3 separate regions of the Homo sapiens genome follow, and all the other regions are linked to region 1. Evidence: fine-mapped expression QTL. A gene starts in region 1. Each other region holds a variant in brackets. All regions are shown on one strand. Distances are between the middles of the regions. Region 1 holds the start of HPCAL1 (hippocalcin like 1). Region 2 overlaps HPCAL1 (hippocalcin like 1). Region 3 overlaps HPCAL1 (hippocalcin like 1).

Region 1 (5,782 bases):
GACATTTCTGTTCCACCTTAAAAACAGCATGAAAGTGGGACGCAGAGGGAGCAGGCAAGGCTAGAATGTGCCACCGTGGCACCACATCCCACCGCAAGGGAGAGGCAGGGCCCCCGGGCCTTCCCTTTGCCACATTATCCAATAAAACCTCAAGAGCTCAGTAATTACAGGCACTTTCAAAAGTGAAACAGAAATAGATCTAAGGCCAAAACACTGGCTTGCTTGAGACAAAGGGCTGGCTTTAACTAGAAAAAAACAAAAACAAAACAAAACACAAACCTGGGTTTGGGTCTGTCTTCTGAGCTGAGAAAGCCAGACTGATTTTTTTTTTAATATTATTATGGAACCTGATTATGAGGAAAGAGTAGGATTCACACCAAAAGCCCTTTTTTCTTGTAGGACATAAAATCATTTGATGAAACAGAAAACAGGGTGCATTCTAAGTGTGCCCCTGTCACTAAGTCAGGATGAAAAATGAGAAAATGAGTTCATCGCATCCCCCTGGCCTGCCATGGCTAGGATTGCAGGGCTTCAGTCTCGGCCGAGGGAAACCAAAGGAACCGGACCAGGTTTCTATCCCTGGCTCCTAAAAGCCCGCAAAGCAGCCCGCCTCTCTGGGAACACCATCACGTAGCCCCTGACAGTTGGGAAGCGCATCCATACCAAAAGGCCGCCCATGCTGTCCCCTCCGCAGCCCAACCCCATGCCGGCGCTCCATTTTGAGAGCCTCCTGCACTGGTGAGATCTTGGCTCCCTTGGTTAAAGGCGATTTTTTTCCCCCAGAGAAAGACACCAAGGCGATGAAGGGAAAGAATATCCTTCGCTCTGGCCGAGAGCCACCCGACCCCTAGAGCTGGCCTTGCTGCGTCCGAGCCAGCGCCGAGGCGCCAGAACTCTCCAGAGAGTGAGTCGTGGTAAGAGCTGGGTGCTCGTTCACTGCGGTTCAATTTTACGACTAGTAGGTTTCAAAAGTAAATGTTTTAAATTAAGGTGTGGGACTAGGAGGAGGTGTCCCATGTGGCACCCCCGGCATGAGGCTGGCTGCAAGGGAGCAGGGATGGCAGGGGCTGGGGCTGGGGGTTGTCTAATGCCGAGGCCAGCAGCTGGACTCGGCGTCCCTGGCAAACATCCTCCTCTGGTGGAATTGGGGTCAGCCAGGAGGAAAGGGGTGGCCTTTGGCGGCCGGGACACCCCGGGAGCCCGAGATCTGCATGTGCGGGAAGCGCCAATTTTACGCCGTGACTCTCGGACTCCACGAGCTGAGCTGCATCCTCCCGGACTAGGAACTTGTTGAACCAAAGGGTTCTCAACTCCGCAGTCGCTGCCTCCCGGCCAGGAGAGGGACCCCCACGCTTGCGCGGGAGCCTGGGGGCTGGGGCAGGGCCGGCGCCCAGCGCGGCGCTCTCGGGCACTCGCGGAGGCGGCGCCGCCCGGGAGGTGCTGCAGGAGGCAGCGCAGCTGGCAGCTAAACTTTCTCGAATCTCAGTGCTTCGCGGTTAAGTTAGGGCCAGGGAGAGGCACAAAACACGCCCGGGGAAAATGTAAGGCCCCACCCACGATAAAGGGGAAAAAAAAAGGATTTTAAACAGGAGACGCTAATCCAATTAACACAGTACCTACTGTGTGCGGGGCTTTGGACCAAGAGCTGTCTTCAGTGCGTTCTCATTTCACCTGTCACCACAGCCCCCAAGGGAGGAGCTGTCCTCATTTTAAAGAGAAGCAAACCGCGACCGGGGAAGGTGGCGCGTCTGGCCCAGGTCGCAGTGCGGGTCGCGGGGAGGCCAGGGCTCTCCTCGTCGCCCCATGGCCCTGGGAGGAACGAGCGGATCGCCTCCGCGTGGGCCCCCACCCTTGGCAGAAGCTCACAGGCGACCCACGTGGGCCGCACGGACCTGTTCCCTGAGGGCTGCCCAGCCTGCCCGCGAGGCCCGCCCTTGCCCGTCGGGTCCCAGCTGTCCTCGAGGCTCCTAAGCTACGCACTGCGCCGACCAGCAGGGACAGGGGGCTCTGGGCGTGGGGCTGGACCACCCACACCCACCCCGCCACCCCGCTCTGCGCACAGCTGCTCACACACGACACCCGCCAGGCACCGCTCCCCACCAGCAACTGCGCCCCGACACACAATTCCACAAACGCAGTCCAAAATGTGCACACCTAAGGCACACATGGATGCCCACGAGTACACGCCATTCGAAAGACACACCACCGTCCGCAGTCACCCACAACTCCACCGCGCAGAGAAACGCGGGCACTCCCGGACACACACACGCGCGCACAACACACACGCAAAGAGCCGGATCGCAGCGCTCGCCGGTGCACACGCCGGGTGCACACGCCCGGGGCACACTTCAGCAGCCAGCAGACCGCAGCCCGCCCCTTCCCTACCTGCTCCGGCGCAGGACGCGGTCCGCCGGCTTCCCGAGCCCAAGTTCGGCGCCGGCGGCGGCTGCAGCGGGCCCGGGCCGCTGCCCGGGACAAGCGCGCCGAGGCCGGGAGGAGTGACTAGCAGCGCGGGCCTCCGTGCGCCCGCAGCTGCTGCGCCGGCCCTGCGCTCATCGCCGCCCAGAAAGACAAAAGGAAGCCGGCAGCCAGGGAGGGAGCAAGGTGGAGGCGCCCGTCAGTCCGCCCGTCCGCTGCCCGCCGCCGCCGCGGCCCGCCTGCCAGCTCCGGGAAGGAAGGGACGCGAAGGCGGGACCTGGAGGCGGGACCCGGAGGCGGGGGCCGGGGCGGGGCGCGCGGCCAGAGGCGGGCGCTCAAGTTTCCTACGGCCCCGCCCCCTCCGGGCCCCGCCCCCTCCACGCCCCCTGCCGGACCCTCAGCGCCCGGCTCGGCCCTCGCAGCCCCTGCACCTCGCTGCTCCTCGGCCCTCGCGGCCCAAACCTGGCCCTGCCGGGTCCCAGCCCCCAGTGGCTTTCGGGACAGGGGCGGAGCCGGGCACCGGTTCTGTTCCCCTAACCCTTGGCCTCTGGCCTGCTGGTATAGAAGAGGCCGAGAGGCGGCGCCCGGGAGGGGCCAGCCCTGCGCCCGCGCCCCCCGCCCCCACGCCGCAGGAAGTGGCCCGGGCGGCCTAGGAAGGGGAAGAGCCGAGTTGCCCCAGCCCCGCACCCCCAGCCCCAGCCCCGCGTGCAGCTCGCACCCCTTCCCACGCCTGTTCGGGGGAGAGCCCCGGGCCTGGAGTGGGAAGCCTGGCTCCAGCTCTGGTTACCTGCAGTGACTCCCCAGGCCGTTTAGGCGAGTCCATTGGGCCGCCTCTGCCTCGGTTTCCCCACCTAACCACGGAAGGTGCTCCTCCCTTCCAGGCATCTGTGGTCTTCGAGCTCCACGCGGGAGAGGCGCCGGTCTGGCACCTCCTGCCCAGGGTCGGCGCCTCCTGGCTCTCGGGGAGGGGGGCATCCTCCATCCCCTGCACCTGCCTCGAGAGGAACCAGGGACAGAGCACCCCCACCCCCACCAGGAGCTCCGGAAAAACGGCTTCAGAAGAGCAAATATACACACACACCCACCTCCCGCCCCAAACATCCCCGAAGAAAGGTAACCACAGAAACAGCCAGAAATGTGGAGCTGGGCGATCGTATGAGGCTGAGACAAAACTGTCTTTCTAGCGTCTCTAGGGGAGAGCTTGAATCCCTCCTTCCACTCCTCCTCCACGGAAAACAGAGTGAACTCCTGCTACAGAGGCCGCCAGAGCAACATGCAAGACCAGCTTTGAGGGGAGCGGGCACAGGGCCTTGCAGGGAAGGTGGGCCGAGCCCAGACCCCTCATTCTTACTTGGCTCTGAAGGCGGAAAGGCAAAGCTAGACCTCGAGGAAGTTCCCCTCCCTGTGGGCCCTACAGTGAAGATTACATGAAGGCATGTGGGCGGTGGACCAGAGTGCACCGACTGATGAAGGCGGCCCGGTACCCGCGGGTGCCATGCCTCCTTCTTAGCCAAGGCCACTCTAGCTCCCCGTGAAGTATCCAGGTAGAAGGCTGGTGGGGTTACAGGTGAGAAGCCGTCGGTGGGGTCCAGGAGCCAGGCCTGGGGAAGCACACGTCACTTCCACCCACATCCATGGGCCAGAAGTAGTCGCACAGTCCCACCAGGATGCAAGGGGCTCTGGCAGCTGTGGTCTTCATGAGTGTTTCGGAAGTAAACAAAGCCGGTTTGATGAACACGTAGAAACATCCCTGCCACAGAAACTGAGCAGATTTCTCCCAAGCACACACAGGGCAAAGGGGCAAAGTCTGTCCACAGACTCACAGGAAGGGAGGTGCATGGCAGACACAGGCAGGAGGTGGGGTTGGGGTGGAAAAGTTCAGGGAGGGCTCAAAAGCAGACCAAGGCCTGTTTCTGAAACCCAGCCCACTCACTGGTTCCTCCACACTTGGCCCATGCTGTTCCTCTCCCATGTGACTTTTCCATCTTCCCCCTCCAACCTGTCACCCATCCATCCTTCAAAACTTAGGTCAGTTAGCTCTCACCTAGCCCTCAGCAGCTTAGCCCGCAGATGCTTCCTCTGTTTCTGAACTTCTAGAGAAACACACTTAACCGCAGACCTCTTATTCCAGGAGTGTATCTCTCTCAGATGAGATACAAGTTGGTCCCTTCCCTTGCGTCCCTCCTGTTCCTTCAAGAGGAGGACTGTCTACCCACCCCGAAGCTTCATGGAGAGAGAGCACACCGTCGTTATTCAATATGTAGTTTTGAATTTAACTAGAGCAAAGAAGAAAGCAAATTCAGGTAAGATGTTGTATAATTTCCTGGGGCTAATGTAACAAGCACCTCCAACTGGGCAACTTAAACAACAGAAATGTGTTGTTTTGTAGCTCTGGAGGCTGGAAGTCCAAGATCAAAGTGTTGGCAGGGCTGGCCCCTTTGGAGAGATGTGGGGGGCAGTTTGTTTCATGTCTGTCTCTTAGCTTCTGGTAACCTCATGCATTCCTTGGCTTATGGATGGCCATGTGCGCTCCCTGTGAATTCACATCTTCTCTATATACCTGTCTCTTTTCCCTTTTCATAAGGACACAGTCATTATTGGATTAGGGCACACCCTAATGACCTCATCTTAACTTGATCATCTGTGCAGACCCAATTTCCAAATAAGGTCACATTCACAGGTACCAAGGGTTAGAAGTTCAGCATCTTTTGAGGGAAACAATTCAACCCATAACAGGTGTCATGCTAGATAAACAATTTGTTTTTCATATGATGACTGTAAACAAGACAGAAGTAATTCTGATTGTTCTTAATATCTGACTTAGTTTTATGACAATTTTTTTCTAACTTTTATTATAATATACACATAACATAAAATTTATCATCTTAATCCTTTTAAAGTGAACAGCTCAGTGGTATTAAATACATTAATGATGTGCAACCAGCACCACCATCCATCTCCAGAACTCTTTTCATCTTGTAAAACTGAAACTCTATACCCATTAAATAATGACTACCTCTCTAATACCTTACATAAGTGGAATCATACAGTATTTCCTTTTTGCAACTGGATTATTTCACTTAGCATAATGTCCTCAAGATTCATCTATGATGTAGTGTATGTCCAAATTTCCTTCCTTTTTAAGGCTGAGTAATATTTCCATGTGTGTGTATACCACATTGTGTTTACCCACTCGTTTGTCAAGAAATCATTGGGTTGCATCCACATTTTAGCAATTATGAATAATGCTGCGACGAACATGGGTGCACAAATATCTTTTCAAGATCTTATTTTCAGTTGTTTTGGGTATATACCCAGAAGTGGAATTGCTGGATTATGTGGTCATTCTATTTTTAATTTTTTG
Region 2 (5,782 bases), 85 kb before region 1:
TGTGCTCAAGAGATGACAAATTATTTTAATATATTAGGAAATCCAACATAATTACAAAGCAAAGTCCCTTAGGGAGAAAAAATTATAATGGAGTCTGAAGTCAAAGATGGATGGTTTTGGATTATGACTATTTTGGAGGTGACTGGTTTTCAAATGACTAATTCCACTGTGGCCTCCGGGTGATAAGCACAGTTGCTCCAAGAATACTGTCACACAGACGTTTTGCACAATGACCTCTCTTCATAGAGGCATTTTCTTCCATTGTTCAATTCAAGAAACTGAGTTACAGAGGAGCCTATGTGTCCTGAGGAGACCACCAGGGTGGGCTGTGGTCTGAGACCAGACACAGAGCACAGGGTGGAAGCCAAGATGTCCACATGAGACCATCCAGGTTGCAAGCTTCACACAGGTGAAGGTCTGGAAAGACCACCCAACACCTGAGCCGCGAGTGGTCATGACTAGTGCCCAGCACCAAACCCCTGGTTCCTGGGGCACTGGGAACTGACTGGCAGGGATCCCTGACTTCCAGAGAATGTGCAATGTCTTACTGTAGCTCCTGCTGCCACTCCCACTACCAGGGCATTTGAGCTCTTGTCACATAATAAAAGGAATCTACTGTCTATGACCACTTTGAAAAACTGGCATATTTACTAAAGATGACCACACACATGCCCCGTGAAGCAGCAGCTGACCTCCTTCATGTATGTCCAACAGAAAGAAGGACACATGTCCAAGACAAAGCATGTGCAGGAACACTCAGAGCTGCACAATTTGTCCCAGCCCCACCCTGGAAACTATCCAAACATCCATGTACATTCCACGGGCAGAGAAACTGGAGTACAGTCACAACAGAGTCCCATAAAGCAATCAGAATGAACCTCAGTGCCCCACACAACAGATGCGTCTCACAACCGCAGTGTTCAGTGAAGTCAGACACGAAGCCTTACTTAATACTGTGTCTTCCTCCAGGCCACTCTAACAAATTACCATAGACTGGGTGGCTTCAATAACAAACATTTACCTCTTACAGTTCTGGGGGCTGGAAGTCCAAGATCAAGGTGCCAGCACAGTTGAGTTCTGGGGAGGGCTGTCTTCCTGGTGTACAGATGGCTCCTGATCTTGCAGGGCAGGTGAGCCCCCAAACTGGGACTTAGCCCAGGAGGGTTCTTGGCTTCACTCAGGAAAGAATTCAAGGGTGAGCCGGTGGTATTAGCAATTTTACTGAAGCAGCTGTGCCCAGCGGCAGCAGAGGGACTGTTCCTTGCGGGGCAGGGCTACCCCACAGGCAGTGTGCCCAGAGCAGCAGCTCAGAGGCGGCACTGCAATCAGATTTATTCCCACTTTTAATTACATGCAAATTAGGGGGTGGATTATGCAGAAATTTCTAGGAAAAGGGTGGTAATTTCCAGGTCGTCAGATGATTGCCACGGAAAGGAGCCGTAACTTCCGGGTATTACCATGGCAGTGGTAAACTGACATGCACACTGGTGGGCACGTCTTAGGGAAAGCTGTTTCTACCCTGGCCCTGTTGTAGCTAGTCCTCAATTTGGTCTGGTGTCTGAGTCCTGCCTCTGGAGTCGAGTCCCGCCTCCTACGTCACCTTCTCATTATATACTTGCCTGGTAGACAGCAGAGGCAGGTCTGGCTCGCATCCTCTTCCTATAAGGGCACTAATGACCAAATTACCTCCCAAAGGCCCCGCCTCCTAATAACATCCTACTCGGAGTGAGGGTCTCAGCACAGGAATTTGGGGGCACACACACAATGGGTCCACAGTACACACCAAGATGCTGCAGCGACCTGGACTCTTAAACACTGACGAGGCACTCACAGCTGCTGCTGGTGACAAAGATGGGCCTTCCCAGTAAGAGACGAGGTCGGCAGGGAGTGGGACTTGGGGGCTGGGGATGGAGTTTATATTTCATTTTAAGCACAATTGTTGTAGGAAAACTTTGAAAACCAGAGAGTGCTACAAAAATACCAGGCACCAGGGAGAGAAATCGCAGGAGTCCCTGGACCTGGGGGCAGCAGAGACAGACGGGAGACCGTGAGACCTGCAGTCTTCTCCCAGTGACAGGGGTGGGGTGGGGACAGGTCACCTCGAAACACGATGTGTTGTCTTGAGACTGAAACTTGTTTGTTCACTCAGGACCTTCCATAGGCAGGAAGGAAAATAAAACAGCTCACTGCTCACTAACAGAATTCTGGAACCTCCCGAGCCCAGTCACTGCCACCCTCACCATGGCTCCCAGATGCCACTGACCTTCTCAGGCAGCATCTGAGGCACTGAGGCACCTCCTGTTCTGGAAGGAGGAAGATAAAACAAACCTTTGCCAACATCAGAACAGTGAGGCAGCCACAGGGGAAATGCCGACGGCCCCGGGGAGGCAGGGAACAATAAATCCGCTCCCAATCCAGTACTTTCTATTTGGGGAGCCTCCTACCCTGAGACACGCCAACTGTCTGCTGTCTGTCTTGGCCGGACAACGAGCCTCTGACCTTCTCAGGAGACCTTAGAACCCTAGTCCAGAAGCCTCCAATTGTCCTCTGGGGGCTGAGGGTCCCATGGGGGGCCTGCGAGTGCAGGGAAGAAAAAGCATCCAGGCCTCCCTCCACCCCTGCATGGCCATTCACCTGCCGAACACACAGACCTCCACCTGTGATTTCAGTGGCAAGAAAAATGTTCAACTGCAAAGGAGAAAAGAAAAGAAAAGAAAGGAAAGATCCATCTTGCCCAACCCTTCCATCGTGCAGTTGAGCAAACAGGCCCTGAGAAGAAGGGTCTTACCTACACTCGCAGGTCCAGGTATGACCAGCTAACACTCCAGGTGCTGTCATCTGCTGGGCAGAGATGCAAAGATTCAGGCATCGGAATAAGTGTCCCTTGCAGGTGTTCAGACCACAAGTCACCTTTCACCTGTTGGTCACTGTCACATGAGTTGGGGCCACAAGCCTCTCTGAGTACCACTGTTAAACTTTCTAAAGTTGTGTTCGTAATGATACCGGAAGAGCAAGACAAAGGACCAACAGGAATGCAGTTTGGAACCAGGGTCAGTATCGCCTGCTTACCAGCATGGGGCCACACTGTCCCTGGTGAGGTTGTCCCTGTGCCCACCTAGATGGCTCAGAAACAGCAGGCACCCAGAGCACCAGGAACGCTGTGGGGGTGAGAGGGTGGGGGAATACACCAAGCGCTTCTCCACGTGGACGTGCCCCACAGCAGCTAGAGCCAGTCCCCAGTGCGTCACCGCATGGCCCTCGGCCAGTCACCCTTCCTCCAGGACTGCTTCCTCCACGGTACCGTGGGCATCCCACTGCTCCTCCATGCCCTTCCTGAGGAGGCCGTGAGGCTGGCACAAGGAGGTGGATTCACACG[C/T]GACTACTCTTTGGACTCATGGTCCTTAACACAGAAGGCTGAATGTGGCACTTACGGGTCCCCTCAGGAGCCCTTGACTGCCACATCCTGTTCCACCTGCTCCTCATGGGTGCTGGACAGGTACAGACCATCCCCCCATCTGCAGATGAGAAACAGGCTCTGAGCCACTTGCCCCGGGCGACACAGCCACCAGCACTGCACCAGGAATCACACTTGGGCCCACCTGGCCTGCAAGCCCCGCTTCTCCCACTGGCCACTCCCTGGGCACTGTCCCTGCCTCATGTGGAGGCCAGAGACCAACTCTCACCCAGAGAGCAATAAGAGAGGGAGGAAAGCAGCCCCAGTGAGCCATTGCAGTGAAATTAAGCAATGCCGTGCAAGGCGGTGCAGAGGGTGGGTAGGGCCTGAGGTGGGTCCATGGAGAGGTGGAAGGGGTCCAGGCAGCGGGGCTGGTGGGGGGTGCTCCAGCTGGCCATCTGAAGCGTGGTCTCCTCCACCAAGCTCCAAGGCCCCTGCCACTGATGACAACCTCCTGCAGCTCCCCCAGCCTGCAGACCTTTGTGGTTTGGCATTCAAAGCCCCTGACACCCACCTGAGTCCTCAATCTCACCCAGTGGGCAGATTAAAGATGCCAAAAATTTGAGACTCTCCCACACTGCCATCTCACACAACCTCACCCCCTCCCAGGGCCCTGGGCCACTTGGGAGGGCTTACCTGTAACCTGGGGGGGGGTCTTTCTCCCCACATCAAAGCCCCTGCCCAGCATCTGCAGCCAGGGGGACTCTCAATAAACATGTAAATGATTCCACAGACCCACTCAGTGCTGAAACAACAACCAAAGAATAAACATTAAATGAATGAGTCAGCGAGTAGGCAGCTCAGAGCATGGAGCCACGCAAGAGAGGCCAGGGAGGAAGGACCAAGCCCATTCACGGAGGGCTTTGAATACTGAATTCAGGCTGCATTTGGCAACAGGGAGCCATGGTGGGCTCTTGAGCAATGGACCCAGAGGATCAACATGGTGGCCCAGGCAAGATGGAAGGCACATGTCTAAACCGACATCAGGGAGGCCCTGAGGAGGTGAGGGAGCAACCTAGGCTGGGGTGTGGCTGGCCCATGTGAAAGTCCGAGATGTTCAAGAGCGACTGTGACGTTATGTGGCTCAGCTTGTCACACGCAAGTCCTGCTGTGTTATCGACATTAATATTCTAATTGCCAGACAGCCGTAAAACCCAAGGCCAGCACATGCTCAGTGGCCAGAGGCTTCCCAAACAGGCAGAGCAGGAAGAAAAGCCCCCAGAGAGGAGAGGCTCCGGACACCCCCCGACACGAGGCCGACAAATCAGCAGCCTGGAACCAGGCGTCCAGGGCAGTGGGGGATTAAGCCAAATTCTCCTGCTGAAATCACTTAATCAGGAGCCTACAGAACATGTGGGGGCTCGGCTGCAGATGAAGGAATAAGTCATCTGAAAACAGAAATAAATTATTCATTCCCTGCAAATGAGCAGCCTCTGGGTTCCCACAGCAGCCGTCGCGCCACAAACATCCAAAAGGCTCGGCAAATCCTATTAGTGACACCACGCGGCCAAGCAGACACCGGATTCTGCCATCGTCCATGCAGACAGCTTGCCGTGATCTCCTCTACAGCTTCTCATTCTGCATCCGCAAGTGAAATCAGCCCAGCACATTGGATGAAAAAATCACAGCCCAGCCCGGCCTCCGAGAGAAGCAGCAAGTGTCTGCACCCAAGGAACTTGGATCACCAAGCCTCCCTGCCAGGGAAGCAAGCCTGGAGCAGGTGCTTGCTAGAATGCAGATTCCTGGGCCCTGTCCCACACAACCTCCAGGGGTTCAGCCCTGCATTCCCGACAAGTGACCGGGAGCTGAAGCCACCAGTAGGAAGCACTGGGGTCCTGGAGTCCCCCAGGGACGTAAGCTCGGCAGGCCAGCCTCACGCCACTGGGCAGCCTTAGGTCAGATTCTCAGCCTCTCCAGGCCCAGGGGCTGGGAGGGGCTGATGGGAAGATGGCAAGGACCACCGCACAGCTGCTCACTCACATGCGCACTCAGTGGAGGCCACTCATGGTGGGGTCTTCCTGTCACCTCTATCTTTTTTTTTTTTTTTGAGACGGAGTCTTGCTCTATCGCCAGGCTGGCTCACTGCAACCTTCACCTCCCGGGTTCAAGTGATTCTCCTGCCTCAACCTCCCAAGTAGCTGGGATTACAGGCGTGTGCCACCATGCCCAGCTAATTTTTGTATTTTTAGTAGAGACGGGGTTTCACCATGTTGGCCAGGATGGTCTCCATCTCTTGACCTTGTGATCCACCCACCTCGGCCTCCCAAAGCGTTGGGATTACAGGCATGAGCCACCGCACCCAGCCTGTCGCCTCTATCTTTATTTTCA
Region 3 (5,782 bases), 40 kb before region 1:
CACACACCCCCAGGGCACACACTCAGACACACCCACACACTCACACTTCCACTTATTCCCACAATTGTTCTTCCTGGTTTGGATCAACAGACCATCTGTGTGCTTGTGTGACTTAGGAAATCTTCCAAAATACGGCAAAAGTTCGCAGTCCTTGCCCCTTTTGTGGTGGGGGAGGGGCGTCATAAATAGTTTTCTAGTTTCTTTATATTTTCTATTTTACAGTGAACATGCATGTATCACTTTTATATTCAGAAAAAGTTAAAACACAAAATTTTTAAAAGTTTTTCTGGATGGGTGCAGTGGCTTATGCCTATAATCCTAGCACTTTGGGAGGCTGAAGTGAGAGGATCGCTTAAGCCCAAGAGTTCGAGACCAGCCCAGGCAGCATAGCAAGACCCTGTCTCTACAAAAAATACAAAAATTAGCTGGGTGTGGTGGCTCACACCTGTAGTCCCAGCTTCTTGGGAGGCTGAGGTGGGAGAATCGCTTGGGCCTGGGAAGTCAAGGTTGCAGTAGGCCAAGATTGTGCCACCACTCCAGCCTGGGTGACAGCAAGACCCTGTCTCAAAAAAAAAAAAAAGTTTTTCTAGGACAAATAATAAATAGTACCACAGTAGGTCACATTCATCTCATCTTGACCCACACAACAGCACTGTGAAGTAGTGCTTCCATTTTACAAATGAAGAAACCCAGGATAAGGGAACTTGAAAGCCGCCCAAGGTCACCCAGCTAGCAAGTGGCAAAAACGCAGAGTACAGTATTATCACTCCTGGGAAAAAGGTTCCTCTAGTCTGTCCCAAAGACGGAGAGAGAGACACACACAGAGAGACAGAAAGAAAGAGACAGACAGACAGGCAGGCACAGAGATAGAGAGATTGAAACAGAGAGAGCAAGACAGACAGAAACAGAGACAGACACATACAGAGACAGAGACAGACACACAGAGAGAGGCAGAAAGAGACTGCAAGACAGGCACAGAGAGAGACAGAAAGAGAGAGAGAGAGAAACAGACACATAGAGAGAGGCAGAAAGAGACTGAAAGGCACAGAGAGAGAGACACACAGAAAAAGAGAGAGAGATGGACACATAGAGAGAGGCAGAAAGAGACTGAAAGGCACAGAGAGAGAGACACACAGAGAGAAAGAGAAACGGACACATAGAGAGAGGCAGAAAGAGACTGAAAGGCACAGAGAGAGACACACACAGAAAGAGAGAGACAGAGACAGACACAGAGAGAGAAGCAGAAAGAGACAGAAAGTCAGGCACAGAGAGAGACACACACAGAAAGAGGGAGAGAGAAACAGACACATAGAGACAGACAGACAGACACAGAGAAAGAGACAGAGACAGAGCAAGTCCTGGGAGGAAGGGAAGGGGGAGCAGAGTACTGTGGAGTGTGGGACGCCCGTCTTACTCATTTGATTATAAAATATTTCTGAGCTGCCAGATGGTATAATAGTGGCTGCAGATGCCCCGATAGCTTTTCTTCATTTCTTTGCACAGGGCTCCATTTCAGGGCCTGAAGAGTGATATCTAAGAAGCTATTCTGGAGTTCCATAAAGACAATCACTATACAACTATGGAATCGCCGCTTGGTGCATGCGCTTAACAGATGTGCACTGGTTCTGGCTTCCTGGATAAACGGGCCTTATGCTAATCGTGAGGCACCTAGCGGCACTTCGGGGCCCCCCTTGCTGGCACATGGCCTGCTCAGGCAGGGATGGGATCTGGGCTTGTTACGTAATTAATCCTTGGCTCAGGGCTGCTGCACACCCCACACAGACGCTGGTCGAAGTGATGCCTATGGGGAAAGCAAGCATCAAAGACCACGTCCCCAGGGTCCTCTGAGCCAGGAGCGGCCGAGACTTCGAGATCAAAGCTGTAGGGTTAATGAGTTCACTGCAGTCCTCAACCGTCTGCTTGTTTTGTTCTGGCTTTTTCGTGTTGTGTTTTGTTTAGTTTTTAATAAGGGAGTCTTCATCCCTGCTCCTTCGACAGCTCAGTAACCCAGTTAGAAAGCAACAGCTCTGTGCAGGATGCACCACACAGCCGCCGGTACTCCTGCCGGGTCTGAAGCCAGCGTTCTCTATATCCCAAGAGGTGCAGCCTCCCAGGAGGCATGGAGGCCCAAGCCTCACTCCAGAACTGCTTGCTTGGGAAGCGCACAGCCATGGGCCATGTGTTCATCCCTGAGGCCTGCCCCCTCTTCTCTTTCTGCCCTCATCTCTCCTCTCTCCCCTCAGCCCTGAGCCACGCCCAGCACAAGAGAACAGCAGAAAGACTTTCTATGCCATCTGCCACTGATCTAAAAGTCCCTTCGCAAGGATGAGTTTTGTTTCTGCTCTTAAAATTTAGCCTGGTTTCAGCCTGATCTCTTGGACTTGGCATTGGCCACGGTCAATCCAGTGTCTGCAGTCAAAGCAGTGGCAGCTTGCAAACCCATATAGTGGAGGTCCCACCTAAAGCCATGCCCACCCTAAAAATCCTCCAGACTTCAAGAAACCTCCAAGTTCAGAAGCAAAAGAAAGGAAGACCCAGGGAACAGCAGGAATCACTTGCATGGAAGTCTGTGGACAAACTAGGCTGGCTCACCTGCCTGCCTATGCAAACACCCACCTCCCACCCGGGAGTCCTGGAGGGAGATATGGTGCTATCAGTCCTTCACATGCTAGTGAGAATTAGCATCATCTTGCTCCTAGAAGAGAGTCATTACTCCGAGGATTGAGATCAGCCTTCTCAGCAGAGTGGCAGGGGAAGAGGAGATAAGTAATTTGAATGTGGTGTGTTTTATGGGGACGGGGCAGGCCTCCATGGTGTGCTAGAGGTCCAGGGTCCCAGGAGAGGGGTGATGGGGCTATTTACCAACTACCATGGAAGTTATTTTAATATTGTGACAGTGCACGGCTTGCCAGTGCATACCCACTGCACATCAGAGCTGCGGGCCCACTTGGAAACACACAGGGCCTGGAGCTGGGGAAGGACCCCTACTCTACACACACATCCAGAGGCACATTGAGTTTAAAACTTGCAACAGCTGGCAGGGCACTGATATCCCACACAGAAGACAGAAGCTTCAAACCAGCACTGGCCATCTCCAAAGCCAGGCCCCAGGGAGCAACATCCTGTCCAAAAAGGGGCCGGGGGAAGGCAGCGGGGAGAGGTACCAACTGCCACCCACAGGCCATAGCCTTGGTCTTCAGCCATGAGATGGACAGAAGAAGAGAATCCTCAGAGGCCGGCCAGAGCATCCTGCGTAGCTAC[T/G]GGAGGGCAGCTGGCCCAACCGGGAACAGATTGTGCCTCTCTTTGCCCAGGAGTCCGGCTGGGTGACAAAACAAAACTCAACGAGAAAGAATGAGAGTCATGAGAGGGAGCTCAGAGCACAGTGCAAACACACGGGGTTCCTCCAGCCAGCACCTCTGCACATGCTGTTCCCTAGGCCTGGAATGCTTTCACCTCAATTTCCTCCCCTGCCAAAAGTCTGGCATCCTGCAAAGTCCAGCACAAGCCCCGCTCCCTGGGAGTCCCCTCCCACCCTCCCCCAGGCTGGGCTGATCAGTCCTCCTTGGAGCTACGTTGTTTCTGCACGCCTCCCTTTCAGGCTGCGCGCTGGAGGCACGGACTGCACATGTGGCTATATCCCAGGACCCAGACTGACTGGCCTCGCACAGAAGCAGGGCTGTGGCATTCCAGGGACACTTCCACAAAGAATGCAGTGTGCCCCTGGAGGCGGGCGAGGCAGGGTCCCCACCTCGGCCTGTTGCTTATTCAACAGGTTAATGATAACCACTCAGCAAGGAAAAATCTGTCTTAAATCCCACAAACGCTCCATCTAAATGAAACGGGGAGCAAAGCTTTATTATTATTATTATTATTTTTACAGACAAGGTCCACTCTGTCACCAGGCTGGAGCACAGCGGCACAATCAGAGCTCACTGTAGCCTCAACCTCCTGGGCTCAAGTCATCCTTCCAACTTAGCCTCCCAAGTAGCTGGGACTACAGGAGCACACCACCACCACATCTGGCTAATTTAAAAAAAAAAAAAAAACTTTATCTAGAGACAGAGTCTCACTATGTTGCCCAGGCTGGCCTCAAAGCAATCCTCAAGTGATCCTCCCACTTTAGCCTCCTAAAGTGCTGGGATTACACGTGTGAGCCAGCACGCCCAGCCCAGAGAAACTTTGAAATAAAGGACTTCTTCAACCCCAAACTTGTAGATCTTTTCAAAACATTTGAATTTTTCCCGTGGTAATCAGGAAGGTATTGCTTTTAAGACAGTCACATCTCTTGGGAAGCGTTGGACCCAGCCAATGCCCACTCTCCTGCCCCCTTCCACCCTCTCTCGGGCAGCCTTGCAACATAACCTAGGCAGGAGGGAATCCCTCCCCACTTTAGAAAGGCCCACGGCTCGTGTTTAGGTTTCTGAAGTCCTTCAGCAGCTTTCTTGTGTTGAGGGGAGAGTTTCTGCTTAAAGACCCCCGTCTCTTCCCCCAAAGCCCCCACCCATTGGTCATTCCTGAGCCTACTATAAAGAAGGCCCTCAGTACCTCCATGCATACATTTGTGCCACAATTTGTTGTTGTTGTTGTTGCTTTTAAGATAAGGTCTTGCTCTGTTGCCCAGGCTGGAGTGCAGTGGCGCAATCATGACTCACTGCAGCCTCGACTTCCTGGGCTCAGGTGATCCTCCCGCTTCAGTCTCCCGAGTACAGGCATGCACCACCGTGTCTGGCTAATTTTTGTATTTTTTTGTAGAGATGGGGTTTCACCGTGTTGCCCAGGATGGTTTTGTACTCCTGGGCTCAAATGATCCGCCCACCTCAGCCTCCCAAAGTGCTAGGATTACAGGCACCCCAGCACCCCAGCACTGCACCCCAGCCCACAGTTTCTATCATAAATCTAGACCCTTGAGTAGTCAACCTAGGCTTTAAGAAAAATCGCGAAGGACAGCCAATTTAAAGCATAACTCCACAGAAAACCTGCCTCCAGACACATGAAGGGAGGTTAGTTCAGTGGCCATCACATGTAATTTATTCTGATTTTATTACATATCCAATATAGTATCTAGAATTTATAATGATATTCTATGAGGAAGGGAAAAAAGTGAAATAATTTAACCCAGAGAAGAGGAGTTTGAGAGTTAATTTCATGAACTCGGCATGAAGCATGATTATAAGAGTGCTGTCTTACCCGGAGGGCAGTAACAGGACAGGGATTCAGGAACAGGGGAGGACAGGCCCCAGGCGTGGGCTGGCTGGAAGGGCAGGGATATGGGGGAACTGCGGGGCCCTGCAGCCTGGAGACTTTCTTCTCCAACAGTGCTTAGGGATAAGACTCAGTCTGAAAGGAAGCCCTGATGTCTGAAGTGAGAGTTTGAAAGCAAAGCTTTGAGAGCAGCAAGCTTGGGGTTGCGTCCCAGCTCTGCCGCTTACAGACTGCGTGGCCCTGGAAAGTTCAGTCCCCTCTGAGCCTGCATCCCCATGGTGCCAACAGGTATGACACCCCCTCCTGGGATGTTCCTGCGCCCTCCTACAGATGACCTCTCAAAGCTACCTATTCCTACTATCTGAGGGATATTCTGAGTCATCCAACGTTAAAGGCACATTAATAACTAGAACATTCCACCACCAGTCCCTGGAAAACATGTTTATCAAGATAGTGGCACAGTTCTTAGCAACAGGTCCTACAATACTGTGGCTACACCTTACATGGTTAGAAAGCAGCCTAGACACTGCACACCAAGAAGCTCCAGTAATCAGTGAAGGAAGCATTGATATCTTTCCCG

What was found. PIP is the estimated chance that this variant, and not a neighbour inherited with it, causes the effect.
Region 2: its variant is the best candidate, but not a certain one, in a credible set for the expression of HPCAL1 in whole blood (INTERVAL, PIP 0.63).
Region 3: its variant is the best candidate, but not a certain one, in a credible set for the expression of HPCAL1 in whole blood (INTERVAL, PIP 0.82).

Annotation. Positions count from the first base shown.
Region 1 is chr2:10,299,781-10,305,562 of GRCh38, reverse strand. HPCAL1 (hippocalcin like 1) reads right to left here and starts at 2,659. Exons shown (of 5, transcript NM_002149.4): 1 at 2,386-2,659. LOC101929691 (a long non-coding RNA gene) reads left to right here and starts at 2,846. Exons shown (of 4, transcript XR_922791.3): 1 at 2,846-3,985; 2 at 4,550-4,721. RefSeq lists silencers at 1,765-1,944, 2,263-2,460, 2,345-3,124 and an enhancer at 2,025-2,084.
Region 2 is chr2:10,384,817-10,390,598 of GRCh38, reverse strand. The region is part of intron 1 of HPCAL1 (hippocalcin like 1); the gene reads right to left. Among named protein-coding and RNA genes, the nearest start is that of SNORA80B, 59 kb to the left of the region's middle. The variant C/T (reference allele first, on the strand shown) is at 3,377.
Region 3 is chr2:10,340,263-10,346,044 of GRCh38, reverse strand. The region is part of intron 1 of HPCAL1 (hippocalcin like 1); the gene reads right to left. Among named protein-coding and RNA genes, the nearest start is that of HPCAL1, 40 kb to the right of the region's middle. RefSeq lists an enhancer at 1,400-1,900. The variant T/G (reference allele first, on the strand shown) is at 3,262.